Linked DNA regions of Homo sapiens: all the other regions are linked to region 3. The links come from fine-mapping of genetic effects on gene expression. A gene starts in region 3. Each other region holds a variant in brackets. All regions are shown on one strand. Distances are between the middles of the regions. Region 1 overlaps BCLAF3 (BCLAF1 and THRAP3 family member 3). Region 2 holds the start of MAP7D2 (MAP7 domain containing 2). Region 3 holds the start of EIF1AX (eukaryotic translation initiation factor 1A X-linked).

What was found. PIP is the estimated chance that this variant, and not a neighbour inherited with it, causes the effect.
Region 1: its variant is fine-mapped to the expression of EIF1AX in coronary artery (GTEx, PIP 0.93).
Region 2: its variant is fine-mapped to the expression of EIF1AX in nasal epithelium (TOPMed, PIP above 0.99).

Annotation. Positions count from the first base shown.
Region 1 is chrX:19,914,447-19,925,438 of GRCh38, forward strand. BCLAF3 (BCLAF1 and THRAP3 family member 3) reads right to left here. Exons shown (of 12, transcript NM_001367774.2): 12 at 1-2,888. The coding sequence ends at 2,859. LOC124905256 (a long non-coding RNA gene) reads right to left here. Exons shown (of 2, transcript XR_007068407.1): 2 at 9,339-10,461. Among named protein-coding and RNA genes, the nearest start is that of SH3KBP1, 32 kb to the left of the region's middle. The variant C/CA (reference allele first, on the strand shown) is at 4,944.
Region 2 is chrX:20,112,419-20,123,410 of GRCh38, forward strand. It overlaps MAP7D2 (MAP7 domain containing 2), which reads right to left and starts at 4,489. Exons shown (of 17, transcript NM_001168465.2): 1 at 4,332-4,489. The coding sequence starts at 4,461. The variant G/A (reference allele first, on the strand shown) is at 5,917.
Region 3 is chrX:20,137,184-20,148,175 of GRCh38, forward strand. EIF1AX (eukaryotic translation initiation factor 1A X-linked) reads right to left here and starts at 4,655. Exons shown (of 7, transcript NM_001412.4): 1 at 4,442-4,655; 2 at 1,356-1,439. The coding sequence starts at 4,457. It overlaps EIF1AX-AS1 (EIF1AX antisense RNA 1), which reads left to right and starts at 2,785. Exons shown (of 2, transcript NR_046592.2): 1 at 2,785-3,052; 2 at 3,152-3,261. RefSeq lists enhancers at 3,897-4,056, 4,387-4,656, 4,717-4,766.

The DNA of each region.
Region 1 (10,992 bases), 220 kb before region 3:
GAGTTTCTCATCCAGCTTTACTTTTCTTGCTTCTGCCTGGAAGTATCCCCGTCTTTTTTTTAAAAAAAAAACTATTCAAAAATGTAGGATTTATTAGGTAAAATGTGGTACATAGTATACATCTACATAAATTGTTACACATAAATGTAGCGAGTTTTTTTCCAATAGAAAAAAATGAAAATGTATCATCTAAAATATTTATAATAGTGTTCTCTGTGATAAGACTATGGGCAATTCTTCAAATTGAAATTTATGTTGAAGTAACTCTAGATTCACATGCAGCTATAAAAGAAATAATACAGAGAGATCCCGCGTACAATTTACCCAGTTTCCCCCAATGCATCAATTTTTAAAACCAGTAAAACCACCAACAGAATAGTGCCTTCTGAGGTTGGTGAAACCAATAGGAAAGAAACATGACGAGGGGATGCTGAATCAGAAATGTCAACTTTCCTCTCAACCTTTTGTATATATGTCCACTAAAGTACTTACTCTACATTGTGATTCTTTGTTTTTGTGAATCTCTTCTTCAGCAGTGCATGAGCTTCCTCACAGCAGGGACTGTGTCTTATTATCTTTGTCTTCCCAGTACCAGCGAAGGGCCTAGCACGTAGTGGAGGAAGGTGAGGAGGCAATGGTAGGGGACTTATCAAAAAAAAGAAAAAAAAAAAAAACTTCTCTTCTCAAGTCTTATGCATTCAAGAAGTCAAATTCTTTCCAGTCAATAAAAAATGCTATGGATAACCTTTTGTTCAATCTCCATATGAAAATTACACATGTAGTTCCTAATAAACATATTCTATTATTCCCTATTTATTCATTCATTATTCAACTAATATTTAATGAACTCTTACCACACGTCAAATAGGAAGCTGGGTGCTGGGGATACTATGGTGGACAAGACAGACACGGTCCCTGTCCTTATTTTATACTCTAAATTATAAAGTTGGTTTTTCCTTTTAGGCTTTAGATCTTATACACACAATGTTTTCTGCACAGGTATTTTGCAGATAACACGCTTTGCATATTGAGACAGTGCCAAAAGAATATCCAAATAGGGAATCAGTTGTGGAATGAATAATAGTAAATCAGCCATCTTACCTTTATGTGTTACAATAAATAAAAAGCGAGCTATAAAGGCGATTTACCAAGTTATATTTCTGTTTAATGTCCATTTTTCCTATTAGACTCTTCGTACCATAAAGGCAGGGTCCATGTGTCTTGTCTTCTTGTTCATTGCTGTAATTTTAGTACAGTATCTGTGCAATACATAGTTGTCAATCAAATGATTAAATATTCAAAGCTCATTACTGTCCCCTAGAATATGGGAGTAAATGAAATCAATTATTTTAAAATTTAAGACAGATTTTATAAGTACCTAACACAATATAAAGTTGCCATACTACCTGTGTGCATGCATTTCTTTCTTACCATAAGTGGAATGCTAAATATGTTTGGAAAACCTGACCTATAGAGATTGTACACAGTACAAGACAGGCCATCTACCCAAATTTATTACCTGCTTAGCAATGAATCAAGTGCACTTGCCCCCCTTATCATGAACTCACTTAAGGAAAAGGCTGCCCTCTCTTTTAAAGATATGGACAAGAAAACTGAATGTACTAAGATTTTTCACATCCAGTCATGAAAAACCAAGTTCTTATCAACCTTCACATTTTAATTTTGAAAGCTCTGTCTTTGTAAGCACAGAACAGTGCTTTAAACACTGTTTAAACAGAGGTGCTATCCAAGGCTATAAGTCTCAAACAAAATTAAAATAATGCTCTCACAAACTGGCAAGTAACTTATTTAAGCAGAAAGAGCAACAACATTTTATTTTATTACAAATAAACATTTCACAAAAATGTAATTGGGAATGTATATGTACTGTTAAGCAGAACACAGAAAACATAAAGAAATAAGGTATTGGGGCCTAAAAATTTCATTTAAAAATCCCATCCATTTGCTCTTACACATAGTAGGTATGCAATACATATCAACTGAACTAAAAGTAAACACTCTATAAGATGTGCTTGCAAAATGTGTAATGCTGTAGTAGTAAAGTACAATTTTCAAATATGAGATTTTGTTTGTCAGATTTTTAAAAAGCCTTTAAAAATATGATATGCACAAGCTTGCCCTGAGGGAAAAATAAGATGGACTATAGATTACAAAATCTTTACATATTTTCCACAATAGCATTTTGAAATTGGAAAAGAGCAAATAGTTGTGGAAAAAAACTGAATGAACATATTACTAAAAATTCAGTGCACTCACAACTACCTGATGGAATATTTGAAGCACCTTGTCTCTTGCCTTCTTATAATATGAAATGTATGAATTATATAGGCCTTGATCTTCAGAAACTTAAGAAAACTTCGAGTTATAAGCCAAAATGTCATCAGAAAAAGAAAAATCTGGTATAAAATTTTCTACCATAAGGCCACTGTTTAAAGTTCTTTCATGTAAAGACACTATACAATTCAGACACTTGTTTTTGTTTTTATTATGTAAGCAAAACTTTCAACATATAAACGTCTGAATATTACTTGGTGAAGTTCTCTCTATGAAACCATGCTCAGAGAAAAATGCATCAACAAATAATGCCCTTCAAGTGATTCTTTTGAGACTTTTTGCAAAGGAAACTGTAGTTAATACAACTTTTAAATTGAATACTGTAATTTAAAAGCAATTGTTAGGTGTAAAAAAGTTGCAGCATTCCACTACTAAAAAATAAAGTTATTTTATCAAGAAGTTACAGTATTAGTGCCTTAGTGTCACTTCTAACTCCTGACAAAAAGAGAGAGATGCTCCCAAACATCCTCCTGTAGCGTCATTTCCATTTGTACGATTTCAGATTAGATTCCTGTGGCAACATCTGTATATTCCTATTGAGAGAAAACAAGAGAAATAAAGACTTCAAACAAAGTGTCAAACATCTGAGCTAGTTTTGTTTACACTGCAATTTTCAAAGTATTTTCGTTTATACAGTGTTACTTGCACCCCGAGATTCCCACGAAGGCATGTGGAACCCCAAAGGCGCAAAGTAACAACAGAACACATCAAAGCAATATCGCATGATAAATCAATAGGACAAAGAAAACATGTGGTGCTAGATAACATTGATATTAGTAAATTGATGAAAACAGTCTTCTGCTATTTGGGTGAGTTTCAGTGAAGGCATCCCTGGCATAAAATCAAGACTCTTAAACCTTTGGCTCTCAAGTACGGAGCCTGACACTACACACGCACACCTCAAATTAGTATTTTATCTTTTCCACCCTATATCTCTAATTCTAAAACTACATGGGCTCTTTTAACTGACTGATAACTGCAGAGAAAGTTATTAGAGGGGGAAATGCCTTCTTACTTTTGGATGGTTGACTACAGTATAAAAAGGTGTAAGGCTTCAATAAATACAGGAAGAAGAATTTACAAGAACAATGAGACTATGATTAGAGAATAATGAACGTGGATTCTATACTGTGATACTATGCACAATATTCAATTACTAACCACAAACTGGACATAAGACCATGCAAGTAATAACGGAGCAAACATGGTAAAATGGCACATTTTTTAGGGACATTAAAAAATAAAAATTTATTAATATACATATCCTTACCTTTCACTAGGATCTTACACTATTAAAACTGAAAGAAATGTAAAAGTTGATTTATTTTTTGGCATTTATATTAGTATGGAAATGTTTAATTCCAAACAAAAACAGTGCTGATAGAAAATTCTTATTCTTCTATTTTGGTTAATGAAATCTTCAAAATACATGCACGTATATATTTGTCAACATCATTCCTTTAAATAGAGGTAGACTTCATTGTATCCTAGTTCTTTACTCATTATACAATATAAAAATCATATAAATTTATCTTCAAATAAAATGTTACCTACTTACAACTTTAAAAGGAAATTCTAACTACAATAATTCTAAAATAAGATTCAGTTGAAGTATCTTGTTAAATGTGTGATTATTTTGAGTTACATTCACCCTTGACATAGCTTCTTTCATAACCTATCTCCACTTGATCCCTCCACCCTTCCAATGATTTAAAAGCCCCCCCAACCCGGCCTTTTTTTTTTTTTTTTTTTTTTTTTTTTGAGATGGAGTCTCCGTTGCCCAGGCTGGAGTGCAGTGGTGCGATCTTGGCTCACTGCAACCTCTGCCTCCTGGGTTCAAGCAATTCTCCTGCCTCAGCCTTCTGAGTAGCTGGGACTACAGGCACATGCTACCACGCTCAGCTGATTTTTGTATTTTTTGTAGAGACAAGGTTTTACCATGTTGCCCAGGCTGGTCTTGAATCCTGGCCTCAAGTGATCCACCCACCACAGCCTCCCAAAATGCTGGGATTACAGGTGTGAGCCACTGCACCTGGCCATAAAAGCCCATTTTAAGCAGAATGCTGAACTAGATATATGAGCACTTCTTATCTAGGTTTTCATAACATGTCATCTGGGTCACCACACGTTCCCTTGTTGGTCTTCCTGCACCTCATTTCTTCTCCCCAGAACCTCCCCACCCACTGCTAACTACATAGCCATCCTAAAGTACCACTTTCTCCTCAGTCTAGGAAGATGTTCTAGTGCCACCACATCAAACCCTAAATATCCTCCTGCCCAGCTTTTGGGGCCATCTATAATTTGCACACCTCCATTTCTCCCCAACCTCACATCCTCCTGCCAAACATGGGTCTTTGGCTTTAGCCCTTTCTATGTCTTGCTCTTCTCCAGGCCTCAGCTTATAATCTACCTCCTGTAAGAAGAGTGTATCAATGGAAGTACTTAGCATGTATCTCCTGACCATTCCTACCATATTGATTTTCTCTTCCCTTTAGGCATTAACCATCTGTGAAGTTAAGCTCTTAAAAAATATGATTGTTTGCAACCAGCCTGGCCAACATGGTGAAACCCCGCCTCTACTAAAAATA[C/CA]AAAAAAATTAGCTGAGCGTCATAGTGGGTGTCTGTAATCCCAGCTACTTGGGAGGCTGAGGCAGGAGAATCACTTGAACCTGGGAGGCGGAGGTTGCAGTGAGCTGAGATCGTGCCATTGCACTCCAGCCTGGGCAATAACAGTGAAACTCCATTCAAAAACAAAACAAAAATATGGTTGCGTTGGCCAGGTGTGGTGGCTCACACCTGTAATCCCAGCACTTTGGGAGGCTGAGGTGGGCGGATCACTTGAGGCCAGGAGTTTGAGACCAGCCCGGACAACATGGTGAAACCGTATTTCTACCAAAAATACAAAAATTAGCTGGGTGTAGTGGTGCATACCTGTAATCCCAGCTACTCAGGAGGCTAAGACAGGAGAATCGCTTGAGCCTGGGAGGCGGAGGTTGCAGTGAGCTGAGATGGCGCCACTGCACTCCAGCCTGGATGACAGAGTGAGACTTCGTCTCAAAAAAAAAAAAAAAAAAAAAAAGGTTGTACAGAAAAGGGTTAACACAGCAGATCTGACTGCTGTCCTTGGAAAGGCCTGCTTACAAAATGGCCCTTGGCCAGCATCTGGGAACTTAGATTTCAAGAGGGTCCCCACCATTAACTGATGGGTGCTGAAACTGTTTGTGTAAATAAGATGGTTTACGCTGAGCACTCCCTTTCCTCCTGGCAGTCTGGAATTTGGGTATGTGCTTGGCAGGGGACGCCTACATGATCAGCCCCCAGTAGAAACTCTTGGTACTGAGACTCTAGCAAACTTCCCAGGGTGGTAATGTATCGCATGTGTTGTCACAACTCATTGATGAGGAAATTAAGTATGTTCTGTGAGACTCCACTGGGAGAGAACCCTTGGAAACTTGCACCTGGTTTCCTCTGGACTTCGCCCTATATGCCTTTTCCTTTTGCTGATTTTGCTCTCTATTCTTTTATGAGAAAGACTATATGCTAAGTCGTCTGAGTCCTAGCAAAACCTGGGGATGGTCTTAGGGACCCCTGACACAATGGCTTTTGTTCACTAACATTTTAGAGCATATGGATGGATGTGTGTGTGTGTGTGCATGAATAAATTCAACTCCATTCAATAAGCATTTTCTGAAGACTGACTATATGAAAGGTAATAAGGTAAGATAAAAGACTAACGAGGCCAGGTGCAGTGGCTCACACCTGTAGTCCCAGCACTTTGGGAGGCCGAGGTGGGTGGATCGCTTGAGCCCAGGAGTTCGAGACCAGCCTGGCCAACATGGCGAGACCCCGTACCTACAAGAAAATACAAAAATTAGCCGGATGTGGTGGCACACATCTGTAGTCCCAGCTACTTGGGAGGCTGAGGTGGGAGGATCACTTAAGCCCGGGAGGTGGAGGCTGCAGTGAGCTGTGATCACACCATTGCATTCCAGCCTGGGCGACAGAGTGAGACCCTGTCTAAAAAAAAAAAAAAAAAATGCTTAGCGAGGCACCCTCAAGAATTTGATAATCTATTTGGGGAAATACAAAGGCAAATGACAATAATTAGAGACTAAATGAAACACAAGTTATAGTGGGGGCTTTGATATGATTTACAGTGGGTCCTAAAAGGAAAGTAGGGTTTAATAAGAAAAGAATGGGGCTCAGGAGGCTATTTCTAGCTAAGAGAACAGTAGGAACAAAGGTACAAATACATGAAAATACAGTATGCTCCAAAAAGCAGAGAGTCTATGGGGAAATGCAGCTAGTAAGATAGCTTAGGGTTAGACCTGGCTAACAAGTTTGGTCTCTTTTCTTGTAGGCAATAAAATACTTGGAAGGTGTTTGTGCAAGAGGGGTATGATATGATCTGTGTTTCAGGACAATGACTGTGATCAAAGAGACTAAATTAGAATATCACAAGAAGCAATGAAACAAGCGAGAAGACTCCAAAGCTTCCAAAAACAGATCAGGGATACATAAGAATGCAGAATATAGTAAAAGCAGCATTTTCAATTAGCAGGGAAAGGACAAATTTTCAATAAACAGTGTTAAAAAACTATTTATTGGGGAAAAAAGTTAGATCCTGACTTTACACTATATCATAAAAATAAAATAAATTCTAGAGGCCAAGGCAGGCAGATCACTTGATGTCAGGAGTTCAAGACCAGCCTGGCCAACATGGTGAAACCCTGTCTCCACCAAAAATACAAAAATTAGCCAGGAGGGTGGCGCATGCCTGTAGTCCCAGCTACTCGGGAGGCTGAGATAGGAGGATCGCTTGAACTCGGGAGGCGGAGGCTGCAGTGAGCTGAGGTCATGCCACTGCACTCCAGCCTGGACGCCAGAGTGAGACTCCACCTCAAAAAAATAAAAAATTGGCCAGGCGTGGTAGCTCATGCCTAATAAATCCCAGAACTTTGGGAGGTCAAGACAGGCAGATCACCTGAGGTCAGGAGTTCGAGACCAGCCTGGCCAACATGGTGAAATCCCACCTCTACTAAAAACAAAAAAATTAGCTGGGCATGGTAGTGGGTGCCTGTAATCCCAGCTACTCAGGAGGCTGAAGCAGGAGAATCACTTGAATCTGGGAGGTGGAGGTTGCAGTGAGCCGAGATCATGCCATTACACTCCAGCCTGGGCAACAGAGCAAAACTCCGTCTCAGAATAAATAAATAAATAATAAAAATAATAAAATGAATAATAAAATAAATTCTAAATGGATTAAATATTAATATGTTTAAAAGTTAACCATAGGCCGGGAATGGTGGCTCACACCTGTAATCCTAGCCCTTTGGAGGCTGAGGTGGGCGAATCACCTGAGGTCAGGAGTTCGAGACCTGGACAAAATCAAGCTATCAGTGATAGAACATTCAAAATACTTTTTGATAATAGATTAGTACATGATTTGTTTGGCCTAAAATTCAGAGTGAGTCCAGAGAACTGAGTGGCATTCCTATAAATAGAAGTCCCTTCATTCCCATCTATGTAATCATATAAATAGGGTTTCTCAGCACTTATATCTATAAAAAGAAAAAAAATAGAATACTTGAATACTATATTATTCTACTAGCAACAGTATATATGAATACATAAACTAATTAAAAAAATGCATTTGCAGTAAGACTTCTTTTGTTTCATCAATACTTCAACTGTAATATTAACTCAATCCAGAGGAAATATTTAACACTTAATAGTCACAGAAATCTAATAACATTATGCACCAAATAGATTTGGTGATCAACAAAATACTTTTAAAGATAAAATTCTATGGAGGGGCCAGGTGCAGTGGCTCATGCCTGTAATCCCAGCACTTTGGGAGGCTGAGGTGGGCAGATCACTTGAGGTCAGGGGTTCAAGACCAGCCTGGCCAACATGGTGAAACCCCATCTCTACCAAAAAATATAAAAACTTAGCCGGGCATTGTGGCATGCGCCTGTTGTACCAGCTACTTGGGAGGCTGAAGCAGGAGAATTGCTTGAACCCAGGAGGTGGAGGTTGCAGTAAGCCGAGATCGCGCCACTGCACTCCAGCCTGGGTGACAGAGACTCCATCTCAAAAAAAAAAAATTATATGGAGAAAGTGGAATGAAGTCCAAATTCAAGGCAAAAAAAGGAACAATGCAAAATTTCTCACTGTTAAAAGAATTTGTGTATTAAAAAAAATTGATGGTATTAGTTATCGAGTTCCTGTGGTATGTAGGTTCCTCCAAAGAGATTTAAAAATATAATGCAACAGTTTTAAGACTGTCAGTGTTTATAATATGCCAGAAATTGTATCCTATACAATAATTTACGATAAAAATATTAGATAACCTACCAATGTGCAAGAAGGTAGATAACTTTTCAAAACTTTACAGTATGGAGCAAAAAGGTTGAAGACCACTGAAATAATTCATATATCCACAGAGTGGAATAATATGCAGCCATTAAAATGGATGAAACAAATGTAGTAATGAATGAGTGATGGAAATGAGAAGACTTGAAACCATTAAAGTTGGAAAGAGAACTGGGAGAATTAGTAGGACACGTTTCCAGCTTGGCTTGTCTAGCTTTGAGAGCTAGGGGACCTGAGGGAAAACAAGTGGTTGGGGGAGGACAGCAAGTCTGACATAATTTTTAACAGCTTTACTGAGATGTAATCCATAGACTATACAGTTCACCCATTTCAAGTGTATAATTCAGTAGCTTTTTAGTATATTCACAGAGTTGTGCAACCATCAATCACCACAATCAGCTTTAGAATATTTTTCTTCCCCTAAAAAGAAATCCCATACCCATTAGCAATAACCCATACCTGCTCTCAATTTTCCCCTCATCCCCGAGTCACTGGCAACCACTAATTTACTTTATGTCCCTACAGATTTGCCCATTTTGGACGTTTCATATAAACTGAATCATACAATATGTGGTCTTTTGTGTCTGGCTTCTGTCACTTAGCATCATATTTTTAAGGGTCTTTCATGCTGTAGCATGTTTCAATGCAAGTTTGATTATTTATTTATTTATTTTTTTTTTTTTTGAGACAGAATCTCACTCTGTCACCCAGGCTGGAGTCCTGTGATGTGATCTCGTCTCACTGCTACCTCCACCTCCTGGGTTCAAGCAAATCTCATGCCTCAGCCTCCTGAGAAGCTGGGATTGTAGAGATAGGGTTTCACCATGTTGGCCAGGCTGGTCTCGAACTCCTGAGCTCAGGTGATCCGCCTGCCTCGGCCTCCCAAAGCGCTGGGATTACAGGCGTGAGCCACCGCACCCAGCTGCAAGTTTGATTTTAAACATGCTAAATTTGAGGTGCTTTTAGGACATCCATGTGAGGGCATCTGGGAGGCAGCTGACAATCTGGAGGTCTGGAGAGTAGTCAGGGTTGAAGACATCAACAGAGGTGATGGCTGAAATCTTGGGAGGAGGTAAGGGCAATCAAGACAAGAAGGAGGACTGAAAAAAGAGAATAATATCACATCACACTAGGAAATGCTTACATTTTAAAAGAATGCATGGAGGAAGAGAAAACCAAATAAGACAGAGAAGGCAGAGAGGTAGGTAGTGAAACTGGAGCCTCCAGATCCTAAGTGCTTGAAAGTGATGATGCCCTTATGCAACACTTCCTTTGCACCCTGGCACACTTCAGCTCAAGGGACCTGGCAAGTGTATACTAGATTTCTGTTGATTCAGCTAATCTTGGTTCCTGTTCTATTTTCGTACTCCATGACTTTCAAGGTTTCTTTCAACCCCCAAAACCACGAATCCCAGTCTCTAACTTCCTTTCTGCACTGTCATTATGCCCTCTTCTCTCTTCCTTTCCTATCCCTGGACAGAGCTCTGGTAAGCACCACAGCACCTGAGGACTGCTGGAGAATGCTCCTCAGATCTCCGCTGCCTTGGAATTCCTTGCCTTCCTGGCCAAATGCGCAATTACTTACAGTTTTTCAGAGGCAATGTTCCCAGAGGTGACTTCATTAATTCTTACTAGCTTCTTTGTTCCAATCTAGTATATAATCAGACTCTCAGGAGTTTCTGAAAACTTTCTATGGTGAGCAGAGGATGCTTCCTGGGGGTACTTCTGAATGCTAGTGGATTAAAGACAAGCCTTATTCCAGGTAGTAACAGACATTCCTCCCACCCCTTTATCTTCCAGCCCAAGCACAGAATCCAAGAGAAAATAAACACAGTAAAAGGGACTTAGGGTGCCACAATGGAATATGACAAGTACATGATGAATGAGGAAGAATTTCCGTTCTGTACTTTTCTACTACTGCTTGGGAATCTGACTACTTTGTAGGCAGCTGGAGAGCCAATGCAGTTTTAGGGAAGCCACTATCATTCTGGTAAGTGGAAGCAGAGGATGTATTAGGAGCACATCTAGGATCCCCACCACCGCCACCACTCCCCAAAGCTGTTTTTTGTTGGAGGCAGGAAGTGCATGGCATAGGATAGCATAATCACCAGACTGTACTACAGATGAGGAAATGCAAGACCTCCCAGCCATGAGTGATCACTCCAGCATTTCAATATGGCAGGGGAGTGAGGAGTCCAGATAAGATCTGTCTAAATATTCTTGGTGGACTTTAAGGCATATGGGAATAAATAGGTTCATATTC
Region 2 (10,992 bases), 25 kb before region 3:
CCTAGGCAAGAGGAAAACAAATGCTTCCCAACAGAAAAGCAGATGGGGGCTTGCATTCAGACTGACCTCAGAGGCAGACGAGGCGGGATCCCAAGGCCTAGTCAGACCCAGAGCCTCAGATGCCAAGACGGTAAACTCCATATTTAAATGCGGCCGACTCAGATGTGAGGTGGACAGTGGACACTCCCTCCCTAAGGGCGGCTGCCCTCTACTACCCCCTCTTCCTTCTTCTGGTGAAATTCCTTTCAAAAGGGACCGGAGGGCAGGGCCATGGGAAGTTTTCAAATCTTGGAACTGCCGCCTGAGCCAACTTAGCACATGAACAGCCCCCTAAAACCAGGCAGTATCATTGTATCACCAGCCAATATATCTCATCAAATCCTCTCAACAAGACCCACCAGGATATTTACCAACAGCCCCCAGAAATCTCCATCTCTCGCCTGCCCAAATCAACCTTGTGAATCCTTCTGTTTTGTAAGGCAATCAATGTAATTACAAGAAGACAAAGTGTTCTTTTAAAACACTAGCCACTGCAGAAGATGGGGCACCTGAGAGGAAAACATCCTTTCATGTTGGAGAGGAAGCAGGTTAGAAATGACAGACTTTGAGCAGCTATGTCACCATGGCTAGGATATGAGAAGAGAAATCACAAAGACTTTCAGCAGTTTGTCCTGAAGGTCCTGCTAAGTCTAAGTCCTATGCTGCCATCAGTAAAAAAAGCCAGGAGCCACAAACCAAATACAACTTTGTAGGAAGTTTGTGGTCCTTCCTACTACCAAAGAGACTCTAGAGGCACAAACTCAACTTGTTCTCTTGTTCTTCTTGATCTGAACACTTTTTTTTTTAAGATCGGAGTCTCACTCTGTCGCCCGGGGTGGAGTGCAGTGGCTCAATCTCTGCTCACTGCAACCTCCGCCTCCCGGGTTCAAGCAATTCCCTGCCTCAGCCTCCCGAGTAGCTGGGATTACAGGTGCCTGCCACCATACCTGGCTAATTTTTGTATTTTTAGTAGAGACAGGGTTTCACCATCTTGGCCGGCCTGGTCTTGAACTCCTGACCTCGTGATCCGCCCGCCTCGGCCTCCCAAAGTGCTGGGATTACAGGCGTGAGCCACCACGCCCAGCGATCTGAACAGTTTTAGGATTAAAGCGTTCAAGAATGGTTTTAAACACAACTTTGAAAAAGGATGAAGAACTCCGATTTCTTGGGGACCCAATGCCTTTGCTACTCGGGCCCACTCTACTTTTTTTTTTATTTTACAATTTTTAATTTTTGTGGCTACATAGTAGGTAGTAGGTGCATATATTTCTGGGGTACATGAGATGTTTTGGTACAGGCATGCAATATGAAATAATCATATCATGCAAAACAGGTTAGCCATCCCCCTCAAGCATTTATCCTTTGTGTTACAAACAATCCAGTCATACTAGTAGTTATTTTTAAATGAACAATTAAATTATTATTGACTATAATTACCCTGTTGTGCTATCAAATACCAGGCCTTATTAATTCATTCTATTTTTTTATACCCATTAACCATTCCTACCTCCTTCCCACCCCCCAGTACCCTTCGCAGTCTCCAATAACCACCTACTCTCTATCTCCAGGCCCCACCCTATTTTGTTTTTCTTTCGAGACGGAGTCTCGCTCTGTCACCCAGGCTGGAGTACAGTGGCGCGAGGTCAGCTCACTGCAACCTCCGCTTCCTGGGTTCAAGCGATCCTATGCCTCAGCCTCCCAAGTAGCTACGATTACAAGCATGCGCCACCAGGCCCGGCTAATGTTCGTATTTTTAGTAGAGATAGGGTTTCACCATGTTAGCCAGACTGGTCTCAAACTCCTGACCTCAAGTGATCCACCTGCCTCGGCCTCCCAAAGTGCTGGGATCCTGGGCATGGTGGCGCAGAAGTTGCAGTGAGCTAAGATTGTGCCACTGCACTCCAGCATGGACAACAGAGTGAGACTTCATCTAAAAAGAAAGAAAGGAAATATGGTTGAGATCTGGTGATTCTATCTGCTGGTTAAAGGTTGTTAAGCAGATTGAAACAAGCACTTGCTCATTTGTTATACTATGTGTATCAGACAAGCACTAAAATGGACAGTAGATCTGGTAATTTCTATTCAGAGGTAATTAAAAGGAAAGAAAGAAGGCATCACTAGGGGGTAATGGGAACATGCACAGGATTTCAATATCGGAAGAACCTGTTGCTAGAGGAAACCACCAGCGGTATTTCCTTTCCGTCTTTTACACAGCTCCCAGGAAAACCACTTGCCAACTCATATCCCCTAAGTGTGCAACACAAAATTGTTGGACAGCCTAAACATCTCAGGTCTTTCTGTATTTTGCAGCCTTGACAGCACCCAGCCCAAGCTTAGGAACAATGGTTGACTCTCTAGAAAAGCAGGTTAAGTCTCATTAGGAATGGGTCCCAAATGCTAAGGGCCTGGGTAACCAAGAATGATCAGTATCCAGGACAGATAATTATAAAACCTCAAAATCATAATTTTTCTAAGGAGACTTTACTTAAGTACCTGGCCTTGCTAACTCCCCCAAACAACAAATGGTGGTATCACCTGGCACCTAAATTAAACATTCCAATTTTACCATACCAACCTTAATGCACATAGGTGCTTATTTCACATTTTAAACCTTCACACATATTTTTCTATATTTCCAATTTCAAATGAAGGAAGATATCCTTAAGCTAATCTTAATATCAGAAGAGTGCATTAAATGATTCTACAATAGTTTCCAAACAGAACTTATTAAGAATCTCCCCCGCAAAAGTACCTCCTCCCCTTCCCCAATTTTGTTTCCATTAAAAAAAAAAAAAAAAAAACCCCTTAAGTTCCTTCAAATAAAATCCAAGATACACTGAAAACCCAATCATACCGCCCCTCCCCACCTCTCATGAGTACAACAGAACATCGAAACAAACTATTATTTAAGCTCTCAACCAAATAAAAATGCAAACTGAAACAACCTCTCCTTTTCAGTGTTTTATTATACAAGGTCGCCTCTGCCACGGAGGGTCGTTCTGGTGGGTAGTTTCCAGGTTCTTCCCTAGCAGATGCAGCTTGAGTGTTTCAAGCAAAAAGGATAAAAACAAAAGCACACATTTCAAAGGTAGTTATAACGTTATCCTGTGACAGTTAATGAATTCTGCCTTTAAAATAGCATAATGAAAAATACAAACTGGAAATGATTTAAGCTATCTCCTCCTCCTAAGAATGATGCAACTGAAGGCCCAGTCAGAAAATACTACCTCGCCCCCTCAACCCCAGTGAAAAAGCGTGTTTTAAGAAGATTTCTCTTGATTTCTTTCCTTTTCTTGGCCCATCGTATATAAAATACTCCCATCTTCACTATGTGATAATTCATCGAATTATAGTTTTGTGTGGTTTTTTAAATGCATATTAGACTGCAATAAAAAATGTTTTAAAAATAGCCTGCCTTATTAACTAAAAATAAAAAAGTTGTTGTCAGGAAAAACAGCATGAAATCGGTTTCCATGCTGCTTACACCCCCGCACTACCTGCAACCACTTTACAGAACGTTAGCATCAGACCTGCTTATCTAAAATCCTGCCAAATGTCCTCACAGTCTCCTCCGCTGCCTCGCTGGCTTCTGGGCAGCCAGGGACCAGCCCTCCATGGCTCCCAGCATCGGCAGCCTCGAGGGCTGAGAGCCTTGTTTGCCCCGCTGCCTCGATTGAGGGCCGCGGCCCGGCCACCTGAGCAGCGTTCCCAAGACAGGGAGCGCATCCGGGCGGGAGGAGCACCCGGTCCGGGGCAGACGCCTGGCCGCCCGGGCGAATCTGCCTCTGCCAATGGGTGACACGCCGATTTTGCCCCCTGGAAACGCCAAGAGGCGCGAAGCTGGGCCACCTTCGCCGCGGGCTGCAGCGGCGCTCGCGCGCGTTTCCCAGAACGCAGAGAGAGCGCGCGCGGAGGCCGGGGCAACCCCAGAACCCCGCTCGGTTTATCCTAACGACCCCCATGCCGGCTGCTCCTCGAGGACGGGGACTGGACCCGCAGCACCCCCTCAGGCACCTCCATCCCAAACACACCTGCCGCCCACCCTAAGCCACCCCCCATGTGTACCCACTCACCCAGGTCGCCCCAAGAAAGAACCCCGCCACTCGCACAGAGAGGGGTGCGGCCCTTGGATGCACGTCCGGACGATCCTGGGCCAGGGAAAGGGCGTTTATCTCAGCTCTGCGCCGTGCCCCTTCCCCCCACGCTCGAGGACCTTTGCCCTGGGCCGCCGGGCCCGCCCCCCCACAGGAACCCGAAGCCCTCGGGCGCCCGCCACACTCTGGGGATAATACCTTGAGGCCGGTAGTTGGGCTGAGAGGTCCGCACCGCGCCCGGTTCTGCGATCTTCCCTGGGAGAGAGGTTCCCCGCGCAGTCCCCTCAGGCCGGGATCCCGTCCCGGAGCCGCCGCCGCCGCGCTCCATCGGGATGCGCCGGCCGCACAGGCGCACTGCCAAGCCCGCCGCGCCGCACCGAACCCGCGCGCGTCCGCATGCGCACGCGTCCTCACGCAGCACGCGCGCAGGGCGTGCACGTGCGATAAGCGCACCGGTTACCACGCACAGCGCACGCAAGGCGTGCACGTGCGATAGGCGCACCGCTTCCACGCACAGCGCACGCAGGGCGTGCACGTGCGATAGGCGCACCGGTTCTCACGCGGCGCGCGCTTGTAGCGTGTGCATGCAATGTGCACAACAGTCCTCACACAGCGCGTACGGGCGTGCACGCGTCCTTACACGCTGCTGTACACAGTGCACACACAGAAGGCGTGCGTACGCACACAGTTCTTCATACGATGCTTACATGCAACATGCACACACAACGTGCACACCCAGCGTAAATGCATCTTCTCACAGTAGCAGATACACACTCAAAGCGTGTGTAGATGTAGGGTGCAGTTTCTCAGACACCGTGCACACACATCCTCACTCAATGTGTGAACACAGAGCACATAACGCGCACACACGTGCTCACTCAGCACGCACACGCTTACACTCACTGGGTGTCTGCATGCAAACTCAGCAATGCAGCCTTGGGAACAATTTCTGGCTAGGCCCCCAGGTGGGTGCCAGTTGGGCCAGTGACATCTGTGCAGACGCCAGAGGACCCGCCCTCCATGCATAGTTAGGTTCCAGTTTTCGAGGCGCACGGGTAATCAGTGTTTAGTGACGCCCCACCCTCAGCGTGCGGTCACCCAGAGAGGGACAGCAGCAAGCTATTGGGGTCGATCTTCAACTAAGAGGCAGCGGCACGCGCCGTAGGCCGACCTAGGCCTTTCAACGACACCCTACTCCGCAGCCAATTTGGTTCCTCTTCTCCTGAGGCGTAAATAATGCTGACTGAAACCTCCGCGATGCCGGGTGTGGTGGCTCCCGCCTGTAATCCCAACACTTCGGGAGGCTGACGCGGGCGGATTGATTGAGCTAAGGAGTTCGAGACCCCCGTCTCTACAAAAAAATTTTAAAAATTAGCTGGGCATGGCGACTCATCTGTGGTCCCAGCTACTTGGGAGGCTGAGGCGGGAAGATCGCTTGAGCCCGGGAGGTCGAGACTGCAGTGATCACGCCACTGCACTCCAGCCTGGGCGACAGAGACCTTGTCTCAAAAGCAAAATAAAACAAAAAACCTCTGAGGAGGATCTCTCCGAGAAGACACACAAGAAACTGCTAAACGGGTTGCCTCCTAAGTAGGCACTTTTACCACTGCCATGCACATTTATTATCTTTTCAAAAACATTGAAAAAGACATCTTGGCAGGGCCGGCTCAAGCCTTTTGTTTACCCAGGCCTGCCAAGTGATAACCCGTTCCCATGGAGCCCCAGGCTGCATGTTTTTTCTCGTTGGAAGGTGACCAGCCTGAAAGTTTTATTACCACTCCTG[G/A]GGGGAGATATACACGATTAAAAATGAAGCTGAATAATGGGTACAGGTTTTCTTTTTTGGATGAAAATATTCTAGGATTATGATGAGTGCACAACTAAGTATACTAAAAACTATTGAATTGTACATTTTAAGCGGGTGAATTTTATGGTCCCTTAATTATGTCTCATTTTTTTTTTTTTAATGTGAAGCTGAAACTCTCAGGAATGGGCACCTGTACTCTTGGCCAAAGCTGGGAAAGTCCCTTTGTGGCACAAAAAATGTTTGTGATGAACGTGTTCCTGACACGCCCAAAGGTGTGCCGGGAGTAGGGTTCAAGTGTGGTGAGAAAGCCAGGAAGTTTAAACATAAATGAGTAGGAAAGTGAGCAGGTGGGGGCTGGTACCCTGAGCTGTAATGAAAACTCGAACACATTGAGATTAAGCCAAATTAAGAGCGTGGGAGCTGTCACTTTCTCCTCCCTTATCTTAGGGACCTTTGGTGAGTTCAATTCATCCAACTCTTGAGCTCATGGACATGTGTGTGTAGCATCCCTCTCTACTTTTATTCTATTTTTGGGGTCCTTTTACTTTCCATTCCTCTCCCTAATTATAAACACCTCCTCTGATATCTTTGCAGCTGCAATTTTGAAATACTGTTTTGAAGATACGCATGTATTTTAATTGTATATAAATGACACTGCATAAAAGCTATCATTCTATTTGTTTTTCCTCTCTTGGCATTGTTCTCAATCTACACAAAATGATTAGCCATTCTATCTGGTTTACCCTTCTGTAAATTCCCTGTTCAATCCTTGCCCACCTTTCCACTGGGCTACTCTGGTTGATTTCCAGGAGTTTCTTGTATTCTAGATAATTTCTGGTTTAAATGTTGCAAATATTTTATCCTAGCCAACTAAGCTTTTTAAGATTGGTAAAATTTTCCTTAATTTTTATGACAAAATCCTATTAACATGTTTACTCCATTTACAATATTGCCCTATTTTTTATCAACTGTTTTTGAAAGTTACATTACAAATACTTCCATGTGTATTTCCTAAGATTATGAATGTTCTGTTACACATACTAGAGTTGACTACCAACTTAAGTTTCACATGGATACAGTAATTTTCTCTCCATTGGCTGTTCCTCCACCTTAGAGGTAGTTTTCCTCTTGCAAAATGCACTGTGGTGAGGCACCTTAAGGCTATGCAGGTACTTACTCTTCGTCAAAAATTCTCTCTAGATTTAGCATCCATTGATGGTTCTTGCTTGATCTGATCTCATAATGATTACGAAGTGATAAAATCCATAAATTTTTCACCTTATGGTTTGCATTTTAAGAAGTCTTAATACGAACTTCCCTAGTCCCAAGATACTCCCCATTGCCCTCATGCTTATAGTAAAAAACGTAAAAAAAAAAAAAAAAAAAAAAAAAAGTAAAAAATGCTTTACTCTTAAGCAATTTTTCTGTATAGGGTGAGGTAAAGAGCCAAATCCACTTTTCTCTCCGAAGTGTAGTTTGGTCAGCACTACCTGCTTACCTATCCTTTCCCCAGTAATTTTTGAAGCCACTTTTTAAAAAATCAAGTACCTAATTTCCATAGTAGGTGAGATAGCTTCTGAGCTATCTATTCTGATCTTCCTGTTACTGCATCTATTATTCACTACTATGGCTTAGGGTGCAATTTATTTGTTGAATTCCCTCTTAGCAGTGTTTCTAGAATTCTTTGAAATTCAGTATTTCCACATGAATATATTTTAGGATGTTTTTGCAATCTCCCACCAAGGCCTGCTGTAATACTAAATGTAATTATATTGAAGTCAGAGGTTAATTTGGAGAAAATTGACATTTTCGACATTATGACAGAATATCCAATAGTGTAATTTCTATTTAAGCTTTTAAAAAAAATGACTTTCGAGTTTTCCGTGCTTTTCCCACTACACTAACTTCCTATAAAAATCTATAGCATGGCCGGGCGCAGTGGCTCACCCCTGTAGTCCCAGCACTTTGAGAGGCTGAGGCGGCCAGATCACCTGTGGTCGGGAGTTGAGACCAGCCTGACCAATATGGGGAAACCCCATCTCTACTAAAGATACAAAATTAGCCGGGTGTGCTGGCGCATGCCTGTAATCACAGCTACTCAGGAGGCTGAGGCAGGAGAATCACTTGAACCCAGGAGGCCGAGGTTGCGGTGAGCCAAGATCGCGCCATTGCACCCCAGCCTGGGCAACAAGAGCAAAACCCTGTCTCAAAAAAGAGGTTTTTGGCCGGGCATAGTGTCTTACACCTGTAATATCAGCACTTTGGGAAGCCAAGGTGGGAGAAGCACTTGCATCCAGGTGTTAGAGACCAGCCTGGACAAAACTGTGGGACCCCCATCTCTAAAAAATAAAAACAAAACATTCGGGCTTGGTGGTGCACCTGTAGTCCCCACTACTTGGGAGGCTGAGGTAGGAGGATCACTTGAGCCAGGGAGGTTGATGCTGTAGTGAGCTGTGATATGGCGTCACTGCACTCACCCTGGGCAACAGAGCAAGATCCTGTCTCTAAATAAATAAATAAATGAATGAATAAATAAATGGCTGAGTGCAGTAGCTTACATCTGTAATCCCAACACTTTGGGAGGTGGAGGCGAGTAGATCACTTGAGGTCAGGAGTTCCAGACCGGCCTAGCCAACATGGTGAAACCATACTAAAAATATAAAAATTGGCCAGGTGTGGTGGCGCATGCCTGTAATCCCAGCTACTTGGGAAGCTGAGACATGAGAATCGCTTGAACCCGGGAGGCAGAGGTCAGTGAGCTGAGATTGCACTATTGCACTCCAGCCTGGGCAACGGAGACTCCATCTCAAAAAAAAAGTTAGTGTCTCTGACAATGCAATAAAAATTTATTAACCTGAAGAGATTAATCTCATACACTGGTACATCCTAACCTTTGAGTACACATCTTTTCAATATTTCATGTGACAAAGTGGGGAATACTACACAAACCTCTTCTGCATACCAATGTACAGCAGTTGTCTCAAGGAAAAGCATTTGTGATAATTTGTATTCCAAACAACTGGACACTTTCATGAAATATCATTTTTACTTGAAAGAAAAGCTGATAAGCTGGTAATTCAAACTTGGATTTGTGTTCAACATTTTTGCAAAAACGAATAAAATTAGCCTGACACTTCAAGGGAAACAAGTGACCATATTTGTTGGTGGTGATAAAATTTGGGCTTTCCAGCATGAAAAAAGTTTTACAAAACTAGTATCTGCTACCATTAGCTTGACAACTTCACTAAAGTAAGAACTTTTCTGAAGAGACAGTGACATTAATGAAATGTGGCATCTTAATACTGTAGAATGAAAAGGGTCAACATATGGAAGATCATACCTCTGTCAGTTTTTTCCAAGTTTTCCAGGTGTGTGAAGTTACAAAGTCCATTCATAGTTCAAAATAGACCAATGAATTATAATGTAACAGTATGAAACGTTTGTTGATTTGGTGTTAGATTCCACAGTGCAACTTAAGAAATCACCTCTTGTCAAGATTGTGTGTAGTATCAAAGAACATACAAGTATCTGAAAAGACTATTAAAATCTTCCTTTTCCAACTACATACCTCTGAGGCCAGATTTTCTTCATATGCTTTAACCAAAACTTACTAGGACACATTGAATACAAAAGCAGATATGAGACTGTCTTCTATCAAGCTGGTCAAGATTTGCAAAAATGTGCAACAATGCCATCTCAAATTTTTGTTTCTGTTACTCCTTATTGTTTATGCTAGGCCGGGCGCGGTGGCTCATGCCTGTAGTCCCAGCACTTTGGGAGGCTGAGGCGGGCGGATCATGAGTTCAAGAGATCGAGACCATCCTGGCCAACATGGTGAAGCCCCGTCTCTACTAAAAATACAAAAATTAGCTAGGTGTGGTGGCGTGCATCTATAGTCCCAGCTACTTGGGAGGCTGAGGCAGGAGAATCACTTGAACCCGGGAGGCAGAGGTTGCAGTGAGCTGAGATCGCACCACTGCACTCCAGCCTGGTGAAAGAGTGAGACTTCGTCTCAAAAAAAAAAAAAAAAAAAAAAAAAAAATTTATGCTAATGCATTGGGTTTATTCTTGAATTACCATTTTTACAAAATCTATTAATACAGTCAACATTGACAGACAACTCACAAGCAATGTTGCCATTTCAAGGAAAATTGACAGTATTTATTGCCAGTGCTACATTTATACTTTCAAGTAAAAATTAGTTTTAGAAATTTGATCTACCAACATTAGCCAGATAAAAGAGCTCTGTGATTCTTCATTTTTAAGTATAAAGTAGGAGTTGGCAAACCCCTTTCTACAAAGGACCAGATAGTAAATACCTTGGGTCTTTGCAGGCCATCTGATCTGTTAGAACAACTCAGTTCTGCCACCGTAGTGCAAAAATAGCCGCCACAGACAACACACACAAATGAGTGTGGCTATATTCCAATAAAACCTATTAACAGAAATAGGTAGTGGGACGTACTTGACCTATCTACTGTAGTTTGTTGCCCCTTGATATAAAGGGCTTGAGACCAGATAATTTGAGACCTGCACAACAACTAAGTGGTATAGTAGATTTTAAGGTACTATTCACCCATACTAGAGCTTTTTTTTTTTTCTTTTTTAGACGGAGTTTCGCTCTTGTTGTCCCGGCTGGAGTGCAATGGTGCAATCTCGGCTCACTGCAACCTCCGCCTCCCAAGTACAAGCTCTTTTCCTGTCTCAGCCTCCCAAGCAGCTCAGATTACAGGCATGTGCCACCACGCCTGGCTAATTTTTTTGTATTTAGTAGCAACGGGGTTTCACCATGTTAGTCAGGCTGACCTTGAACTCCTGACCTCAGGTGATCCACCTGCCACCTGCCTTGGCCTCCCAAAGTGCTGGGATTACAGGAGTGTGCCACCACGCCTGTCCAATGTTTTTTTTTTTTTTTTTTTTTTTGAGACAGAGTCTCGCTCTGTTGCCCAGGCTAGAGTGCACTGGCACGACGTCAACTCACTGCAACCTCCACCTCCCAGGTTCAAGTGATCTCCTGCCTCAGTCTCCCAAATAGCTGGAATTACAGGCACCCGC
Region 3 (10,992 bases):
CCTGTAATCCCAGCACTTTCGGAGGCCGAGACGGGTGGATCACGAGGTTAGGAGATCGAGACCCATCCTGGCTAACACAGTGAAACCCCGTCTCTACTAAAAATACAAAAAAAATACCCAGGCATGGTGGCGGGTGCCTGTAGTCCCAGCTACTTGGGAGGCTGAGGCAGGAGAATGGCGTGAACCCGGGAGGTGGAGCTTGTAGTGAGCCGAGATCGCGCCACTGCACTCCAGCCTGGGCGACAGAGCGAGACTCCATCTCAAAAAAAAAATTAAAAAATCCCACATATATATTTCTTTATATGTGTGTGTACAGATGAAGGATTTAAGGGAGTTTGTTGCACTAATACTGCAACTTTCTGTAGGTTTGAAATGACTCGAAATAAAAGTAACAGGAAAGGGCAAACGATCCAGTTAGGATTTATTTGACTAGTGCTATGTATCTTGGTCTGGCACTTACAATATTCTTCAGTCTAATAAAATCAGTTAACTGTTCAGTTTCATTTTATTGTAGTTTACGAAGTTATATGCTAATGGCACTGGAGAATGGAGAGGTCTATAAGGGCCTCAGGCTCATCCTTCAAATGTCCATGGTCTACTCAACATATTATATGTACCATTCACTACCAGAAATGCTAATCATAGAACTGCCAACTAAATCACAGAACTGTCAACCATAGCTCAATTCCCTCTGAACTATACGACACATTCTTAGTTCCCAGTACTTTGGGAGGTCATGGTGGGAGAATCACTTGAGCCCAGGAGTTCGAGAATAGCCAGGGCAACATATGAAGACCTCATCTCTATACAGTTTTTTTTTTTTTTTTTTTTTTTTTTTTGAGACAGAGTCTCCCTCTGTCACCCAGGCTGGAGTGCAGTGGTGTGATCTCGGCTCACTGCAACCTCCGCCTCCCAGGTTCAAACAATTCTCCTGCCTCAGCCTCCTGAGTAGCTGGGATTACAGGCACGTGCCACCACACCCAGCTAATTTTTGTAATTTTAGTAGAGACGGGGTTTCATCATGTTGGTCAGGCTGGTCTCGAACTCCTGACCTCGTGATCCGCCCGCCTTGGCCTCCCAAAGTGCTGGGATTACAGACGTGAGCCACTGCGCCCAGCCTAAAAAAATTTTTAAAATTAGCCAGACGTGGTGGTGTGTGCCTGTAGTCCCAAATACTCGGGAGGCTGAAGTGGAAGGACTGCTTCAGCCCAGGAGGTCATGGCTGCAGTGGGCTGTAATCGTGCCACCACACTTCACCCTGGGCGATGGGCAAGACGCTGTCTCAAAAAAATAAAGTCCCCAGCTAAAAAAGAAAGGATGTTATTTTAAAAAGCGTAATTTATGAAAACACTTACCCTGACCATCCTCTTTGAATACCAGTTCTCTTTTTTCAGATTCATTCTCATTCTTACCCCTGCGTCTGTTTTTACCTCCTTTACCTGATGGTTTAAAAAAAAGAAAAGGAGGTAAATGACATTAATTATCTGTAAAACAGTATGAAATAAAATGAAATTAAGGCTTATAAAACCATTTTTTAAAAGATCACTTAAATTAAAAAATTCATCTATTTTAGCTACACAATCATATTAAATTTACAATCTCCAATCCCAACATTAACACATTATCACCTCCCTACCCTTCTTGGAATTTCCTTTGGGGATTTTTCTGACATAAAATACACATAAATAGCAGATATTATGTTAAAAAATATAGAAAAACATTTCACTTTAGCACCCATCCTTTTGAAATAAAAATGCAATTCTATACATATTCTTCTAAGCGGAAATCTTGGGTGTCTTCTAAAGCCAGGCCCTATGCAAGGAACCCGATACTTTCAAAATTAAGTGAAGACAGTGTCTGGACAGAGAACTGTGGTTTTCAAACTTTTGGTAGCAGAGTACCATAAATATTGAAATCTCACTGGGTGCAGTGGTGTGCGCCTAGGGTCTCAGCTACTCAGGAGGCTCAGGTGGGAGGATCACTTGAGCAAGCCCAGGAGGTTCCAGGCTAGCCTGGGCAACATAGCGAGACACTGTCTCTTAAAAAATAAAGAAGATCTGTTCGGTACCCAATTTACTTTCTTTTATAATGCTGGTCCCTACTCAACATCCCTGTTTCTATTATATGACCCCAGTGACCATGCTCTTAACCACTATGCAATAATTCTGCCCATTTACTTGTCACAATCACCCCATGAGGTCATAACATTCATTTATTCCCAGTTTACCCATGAGTTCCCTGAAGCTCAGAGAAGTTAAGTAAGTCGCTTAGCTTCAGTGAGTAAATCAGTTCACTGATTACAGTCAGTAAGCTGGGGTGACCAAAGTCACAATGTTTTTTTTGCCCCTAGCCCCCACATAAGCTTACCTCTCCACAGCATTTTGCTCCCATTCCAGAAAGGAAACCACATTGGCAGCCATTTCCAAAAGGCAGGAAAAAGGCTGTAAGTGGTAATGACCCTAAGAGACTCATGGGAAGAGCTTGGAAGCAGCAAAAAAAAATGGAGGACACTTAAATTAGGTCATGAAAAGTACCATTCCTCTAAGTAAGATAACTAAGAACTGATTGGTTTCAGACAGTACAGGAATGATAAACACCAAACTCAGCCTGGTGATTACCTCCAAAAAGAGAGTAAAAGGTGATTAGGGCTTTACCTCAATCTGCGCTGTAATTCTTAAATTCAGAGTAATGGGTTCCCAGGTATATCATGTTAGCTGTATTTTTTGTATGCCTCAAATGTTATTTAAGAAAAGACTAATTACTTGTCAATTTACCAGAATTAACCATACCCGGATCACTCCCCTTTGTATTTTATTGCCATGTAATGGGATGTTCTTTAAATTCTCTGTTGAATGAATGAGACTAGGTCTGAGTGTACAACAATTAAAGTGACATCAACATTCTTTAAACCAGAGTTGTTTTGGAGAAATTCCCAGAGAGGCTCTTTCTTAAGACATGAGGCTAGGGAACTAGATGTGATTTAGTGTAGAAGTCCTATCCCCTTGGAACCAAAGCAGAACCTATTATTCACTAAGGGTGGAGTCGACAGGAGGTAGGTGACTTAAACCAACAAATATTTATTAAGCATCTACTAATTGTCAAGTGCTGGCAATCCAATGAGATTAAGACAGATACTATTCCTGCCTTGTAGAGCTTACAGCCTGGTGGAAGAATTGGAAATCTTATTACTAGAAATAAAGGTGAGAATAAGATGGAAGTGATCCCCTTACCACCTCAGAGAGAATAAAGGATTATACAGAAGAAAACTGTAAGACTTTAAAATTTTTTGTTTATAACTCCATCTTTTCCAAAATAATGAGCAGTGACTGCACCAACTTGTGCACAGAACACCTCGACCAAGTACCCTAAGGGATAAAGTAATAAGTGACAGCTACAAAGAGGAAATGTGGTAGAATCCCTGGAGCCAGCTGTCAAGTAGAAAAGAGAGCAGAAGTAGGCCTGTGTCAGGGGAGGGTTTCCTCTAGAATGAATAATCAAAGGAGACTACTTACGGACTATGAAGTATGCTCCTCTCCTGTAGGAAAATACAGTATTTTCCCTATATTTACTTGCACAATTTTCTTCAAGTTATACGGCTATTAAAAATGACAGGAACACTGTAAATCTATAAAAGTAATTTCTTTAGGAGTGTTCTGTTTTTTGTTTTTGTTTTTTTTTTTTTAAGATTAGGCCTTCCGTTTTGGAAATCCCAAATAAAGTTATCCTCAAGTCTGATCATTTGTGAACGCTTAGCCTCAGAATGGAGGACACTTAAATTAGGTCTTTATTCTCACAACATATGCATCATCTGAAGCAAAAGTAGAAAACTTGGCTCAATATGGAATAAGTCTTCAGCAAACAAACATAAGCTATATCCTGTAAAGGGATGGAGAGAGTAAATCTCTAGAGGTGAGCCTTAGAAATGTATCAAGGTTTCACCCACTGTTCACAAGGGACAGCGAGTAGCCTCAACAATACTGAACTGTCCATAAAGAAACCCATGCAGGAGTACCTGGTGCTCACGAATGCAGACAGCACTCTGAAAGTTCAGAACGGCTTCCAGGGATTATAACCCCTCATGCCCGGGAAGGCCAAAGGGGCCTATCTACTAAACCTAGGCCGCCCCGGGGAAGGTTCCCGCCACCGTCCCCACCGAGCAGCGGTCAGTCTGGCGCGAATCAGGAGCAAAAGCCCACATTCTCCCGCAGGAGGCCCTACAAAAATGGCGCCGGCTCCACCCCAATGTGACCAAACTGGGCAACAGGAGTTAACTTCCCAGCTCCTCTCCCGAGCTCAGAGTCGCGTGTGGGGCGCCCAGCCGCGGGCAGGCAGGGCGGGAAGGAAAAAGGGTCACTGCGGCCTGGGTGACCTGCAATCTACGGGCAGGACCTGGGAGACCCGGCCGAGCAGAGCCGTGGTCCGGGGGTCCGGGCGGCATTACCTTTATTCTTGGGCATGGCGGTGGCGGCGACCTCGCGGCGTCTCTGACTTCTTTCCGGGTAGCGGCGACCGCGGCGGCTGCTGCTCCGAGGGGCGACACGAGGGAGCGCGCGGGACCAAGTAGGTGCTGGAGGCCAGGCAACGTGCGCGGGAGAGGCTGGCGACCCAGCTCTTCAGAGATCCGCCTGCGTCCACGCTCGGCGGCAGCAAATGGCGCCGCGACTCTTTGCGTCGCTTTTCCCCGCCTCCCGTCGCCGGCTGGGCCCGCCCCCAGGCTTTATGACGCAGGCGTGGCCGACTGACTCCTATTGTTAGAGCCGAGGGAGACGCGTTGTGGGAGGGTGCGCAGCAAGCCAGAGAGGACGCGAGGGGCAGGGCCTCAAGCAGGGAAAAGGCGGAGTCAGGGAGGGAGGGGGAGAGACTCTGCGTCATAGAAAAGGGCGGGTTGAGGTGGCGCTTGCTGCTGGTTAAGACCAGACCTCTGCTGCTTTGTAGCAAACGCGCGTCTCCCGGTTTCACAAGTGGCTGACTCGTTAACCTCGTGGTTAGCTCAGTTTTTAAAAAATATGTATATTTTTATTTTTATTTTATTTTTTGAGACGGAGTCTTGCTCTAGAGTCGCCCAGGCTGGAGTGCAGTGGCGCGATCTCGGCTCACTGCAACCTCTGCCGCCCGGGTTCAAGCGATTCTCCTGCCTCGGCCTCCGGAGTAGCCGGGATTACAGGCACGTGCCGCCACGCCCGTCTAATTTTTGTGTTTTTAGTAGAGACGGGGTTTCAGCATCTTGGCTAGGCTGGTCTTGAACTCCTGACCACGTGATCCATCCGTCTCGGCCTCCCAAAGTGCTGGGATTACAGGCGTGAGCCACCGCGCCCGGCCAATATTTTAATTTTTTTATTAAGATGGAGTCTTGCTCTATCGCCCAGGCTGGAGTGCAGTGGCGCGATCACGGCTCACTACAACCTCCGCCTCCCGGGCTCAAGCGATTCTCCTGCCTCAGCCTCCCGAGTAGCTGGGATTACAGGCATGTGCCACCATGCCCAGGTAATTTTAGTACTTTTAGTTGAGACGGGGTTTCACCATGTTGGCCAGGCTGGTCTCGAACTCGTGACCTCAACTCGCGCCCACCTCGGCCTCCCAAAGTGCTGGGATTACAGGCGTCAGCCACCGTGCCCAGCCGGTTAGCTCATAACGCAGTCCTTTCACTCGCCCAGCCGGGTTGGGAGCCTGATGGGAAGGGCAAGGCTTTCCTGGCATCCATTACCAAAGCATAATATTTGCATGGCACTTGTTATTACTCTTTAAGTCTGTCTGTCCTACCTCACTGTAAACCTTACCGGGCAGAGACCATGTTTGTTGCTTACCATTACCCCCACTTAGCTGAATGTCTGGCACATAATAGGTGTTCAATACACACAGAAAGGAAGGGAGGGAGGGGAGAAAAGACTTAAGCTCAATGTTAATGGGCTGAATTGTGTCCCCCCCAAAATTCGTATGTTCACGTTCTAATCCCCAGTAACTCAATGTGACTGTATTTGGACATAAGTTCTTCAAAGACGTGATTAAATTGAAATGAGGTCATTAGTGTGGACCCTTATCTGACTGGTGTCCTTACAAGAAGATATTATTAGGCCACAGGCATAGAGGGAGAACACCACGTGAACAAGAAGGTAGCCATCTATAAGCCCAGGAGAGAGGCCAACCCTGTTGACGCTTGATTTTAGACTTTCAGTCTCCAGAACAATGAGAAAATAAATTTCTGTTGTTTAAGCCACTCAGTACGTGGTACTTTGTTATGACAGTCCTAGCAAACTAATACAGCTGGCTAATGCTGGGCTGTACTCTACAAGATTTATTTCTAAGTAAACTTATTTTGACTAAACCAAGTAAACTTATTTTAAATAAATCACCTTTCCACAAACACCAGGGTTTGCACATACTTAGAAGACAGAAATAAAGTATCATCATCTAATATAGTGGTTCTTTTCTGTGAACATTTGGCAGCGTCAACCAGAAATGTTTCTGGTTGTCATAACTTGAGGAGGGGGGCAGTGATGCTGGCATCTAGTGGGCAGAGGCCAGGGATGCGGCTAAACATCCTACAGTGCACAGTACAATCTCCCCTCCCCCATACAAGCAAACAATTATCCAGCCCAAAACATCAGCAGAGCTGATATTGAGAAACCCAATGACAGATGCACTTCTTAGAGTGAAATTGAAAGATAATGGGGGACTCAAAGTTCTGGGTTTCTCTTTCTATCTGCAATATTTTTCAATTTACATAATTGAGGATGAAAGGATTTTTTATGAAATTTATTTAAATTTTGCTCCAAGGTCAAATAATTATGAACTTGAGCTTTGGAGTTAGAGAGGCCTGGGTTCAAATTCAAGCTCTGCAGTAACTTATTACTCTATTTTCTTGGGCAAGTTTTAATCTCTTTACAAGCTTCCGTTTTCTCATCTGTAAATTGGATGTAGGAATAGTACTAACCGGCCAGGCGCAGTGGCTCACACCTATAATCCCAGCACTTTGGGAGGCCGAAGTGGGCGAATCACCTGAGGTCAGGAGTTCGAGACCAGCCTGGCCAAAATGGTGAAACCCCATCTCTACTCAAAAATTCAAAAATTAGCCGGGTATGGTGGCAGGCGCCTATAGTCCCAGCCACTTGGGAGACTGAGGCAGGAGAATCACTTGAACCCAGGAGGCGGAGGTTGCAGTGAGCCAAGATCGCGCCACTGCACTCCAGCCTGGGCAACAAGAGTGAAACTCCATCTCCAACAAACAAACGAACAAAAAAAAAGAAAAAAAAAAGAATAGTACTTACATTAGGTTGTTGCAGGAATTAAATTGATATAATGCATTCAATTAGCAATTGTGCCTAGTACATGGTAAGTAGTTAGACTCTAAGAGTCCGGAACTCTAAATGTTTAAAAATAAAAAGTTTCTGTCAATTACCCAGTATAAAACCTCAAAGAGGAAAAAAAAATATCAGGCTTCATTTCTCTACTGTAGGATGGTTCCCCCATCTGACTGATCATCTTAATCACTTGGAAGGAAGTGAGTCAGGTGGACATCTGGGGGAAATGTGTTCTAGGCAGAGAGAACAGCAAGGGCAAAGGCCCTGAGTGGAAGCATGCTTGGTATATTCAGGAAACAGCAAGAAGCCAGGTGCAGTGGCTTCCACCTGTAATCCCAGTGACTCAGGAGGCTGAGATGGGAAGATCGAGCTTGAGGCCAGTAGTTCGAGACCAGCCCAGGCAACATAGCGAGACCCACCCCCCCATCTCTAAAATAATAAACACACGACAGTAAAAAAAGCCAGGCATGGTAGTTCACATCTGTAGTCCCAGCTACTTGGGAGGCTGAGGCAGGAGGATCCTTAGAGCCCAGGAGTTTGAGGATGCAATGAGCTATGATCGTGCCACTGCATTTCAGCCTGGGCAACAGAGTGAGACCCCATGAAAGAAAGAAGGAAAGGAGGAAGGAGGGAAGGACATAAATGAAGGAAAGGAAAGAAGGAAGGAAGGAAGAAAAGAAAGGTCAGTGTGGCTAGAATGCATTGAGCCAAGGGAAGAATTTGAAGAGATGAGATTGGAGAAGTAAGGAGGCCAGATCACTTGAATCTTCAGTAGGTTTTTTTTTTTTTTTTTTTTTTTTTTTTTGAGACAGAGTCTCGCTCTGTTGCCCAGGCTGGAGTGCAGTGGCGCGATCTTGGCTCACTGCAACCTCCGCCCCCTAGGTTCAAGTGATTCACCTGCCTCAGCCTCCCTTAGTAGCTGGGACTACAGGTGTGCGCTACCGTGCCTGGCTAATTTTTGTATTTTTAGTAGAGACGGGGTTTCGCCATGTTGGCCAGGCTGTTCTCGAACTGCTGACCTCAAGTGATCCACCCGCTTTGGCCTCCCAAAGGGCTGGGATTACAGGCATGAGCCACTGCGCCCGGCCTTTCAGTAGGTTTTTAAATAGATCATTTTGGTTTCTGTGTTAAGAACAGACTGTAGGGGGCAAGGGTGGAAATGGAAACCACACGGGAGGCTACTGTAACAGTCCGAACGAAAGACAGTTGTGGCTTGGACTAGGGTATAAAGTTTCTTTTTAGGATGGTGAGAATGTTCTAAAATTACATTATAATAATGGTTGCACAACTCTGTAAGTACTATACTAAAAGACATTAAATTGCTGGGTGCGGTGGCTCACACCTGTAATCCCAGCACTCTGGGAGGCCGAGGCGGGTGGATCACAAGGTCAGGAGTTCGAGACCAGCCTGGCCAATATGGTGAAACCCCGTCTCTACTAAAAAATACAAAAATTAGCCGTACGTGGTGGTGTGCACCTGTAGTCCCAGCTACTTGGGAGGCTGAGGAGGGAGAATCACTGGAACCCATGAGCTGAGATCGTGCCACTGCATTCCAGGCTGGGCAAGAGTGAGACACTGTCTCAAAAAAAATAAAAACAAAACAAAACAGTAAATTGTACACTTTTTTTTTTGAGACAGAGTTTCATTCTTGTCTCCTAGGCTAGAGTGCAATGGCGTAATCTCAGCTCACTGCAACCTCTGCCTCCCAGATTCAAGTGATTCTCCTGCGTCAGCCTCATGAGTAGGTGGGATTATAGGCTCCTGCCACCATGCCCGGCTAATTTTTGTATTTTTAGTAGAGACGGGGTTTCGCCATGTTGGCCGGGCTGGTCTTGAACTCCTGACCTCAGGTGATCCACCTGCCTCGGCCTCCCAAAGTGCTGGGATTACAGGCATGAGCCACCATGCCCGGCCTAGATTGTACACTTTAAATGGTGAACTGTATGGCGTGTAAACTATATCTCAATAAAACTATTAAAGAAATAGGAGACGGATCAAATGACAAATGGTACTGAGGGTTTAGCTGAGGTTAGAAAATATAAATTTGCAGTGGTATCAGTTTGCATAATTATATGGTTTTCGAAACCACCATTGCAAAATTGTAACTGAGACAATGAGATCTGACCTAACCAACTCCAACTCCATCTTGTTTCTTTTTTTTTTTTTTTGAGACGGAGTCTCACTCTGTCGCCCAGGCTGGAGCGCAGTGGTGAGATCTCGGCTCACTGCAAGCTCCGCCTCCCGGGTTCACGCCATTCTCCTGCCTCAGCCTCCTGAGTAGCTGGGACTACAGGTGCCCGCCACCATGCCCGGCTAATTTTTTGTATTTTTAGTGGAGACGAGGTTTCACCATGTTAGCCAGGATGGTCTATGATTTCCTGACCTCGTGATCCGCCCACCTCGGCCTCCCAAAGTGCTGGGATTACAGGCGTGAGCCACCGTGCCTGGCCAACTCCATCTTGTTTCTAACCTCCAAGCTGTCCTTGTTCATTCCTGGGTGTAGGCTGGACTAACTTTAGGAGAAATTTAGTTTACAGTTTAAAACAAAAATGATAACAGCCCTTTCCCAAAATGAATCCCCTTCTTGCCTGGGGACTAGACTGCCTTTGTGGGACTAACAAATTAGCCAAAAGATTAGAAATTATGGTTTAGGAGTCATGCAGCTGGAGGCTACAAGATTCTGACTCTCTCCAAATTGCTCCTGGGGATAACATCGCTATCATAAAGCCTAAGATCAGTGCTTGATATATTTTGCAGACCCTGCACTTGATGGATCAGTTGGCACCACCCAGATCAATAAACTGGCTAATATGAGCTTGTGGCCCCCACCCAGGAACTGACTCATTGCAAGAGGACAGCTTCAATCCCCTATGATTTCATCTCTGACCTGGCCAATCAGCATTCTTGACTCACCGCCCCCCGACCCCCCACCAAATTATCCTTTAAAACTCTGATTCCTGAATGCTTAGGGAGACTGATTTGAGTAATAATAAAACTCCAGTCTCCTATACAGCTGGCTCTGCATGAATTACTCTTTCTCTACTGCAATTCTCCTGTCTTGATAAATTGGCTCTGTCTCCACAGAGCAAGGTGAATCCACTGGGTGGTTACATTTCTTCCATACAATAGCTGACTGCATACAATCATTAACCAAAATGATCCAGGATTGGAGTTTTTTTTTTTTTTTTTTTTTTTTGCTCAGTGGGTGCAGAATAAGGGAAAAATATAAGGAAGTTGCGGGTGCTTCTAAGAGAGAAGTTCAGATTATCAACTATGGGGCCATGAGGTTCAGTCTGGATAAAAAAGGAAATAAAGACTGGGGACTGTGGGGGAAAACCCCAGAGGTATAAAATTCAAATTCCTTAATATGATTTATTATGCCTTTGATGATCTGGCTCCTGCTTATCTCTTGAGCCTCACATTATTTCTTCTTCTCTTACTTTTTAAGTTCTAGTCATACAGAACTTTTGAGTGCCTCTAATTCCGAATTTCTATACATTCTATTCTACCCTTCTCCCTTGCCCTTTTAGGTCTCAGATTAATAATTGTTTCCTTAGAAGGTCTGCTCTAATCCCTAGGCAACCCTGCTACATATTCCTACAGCATCCTGCACTTCCTTTACCTAGCTTTTTTTTAGTGTGTCAATTTTATGAATTCAGGGTACATTAATATAAAGCTGCAGAAGCCTGACCAT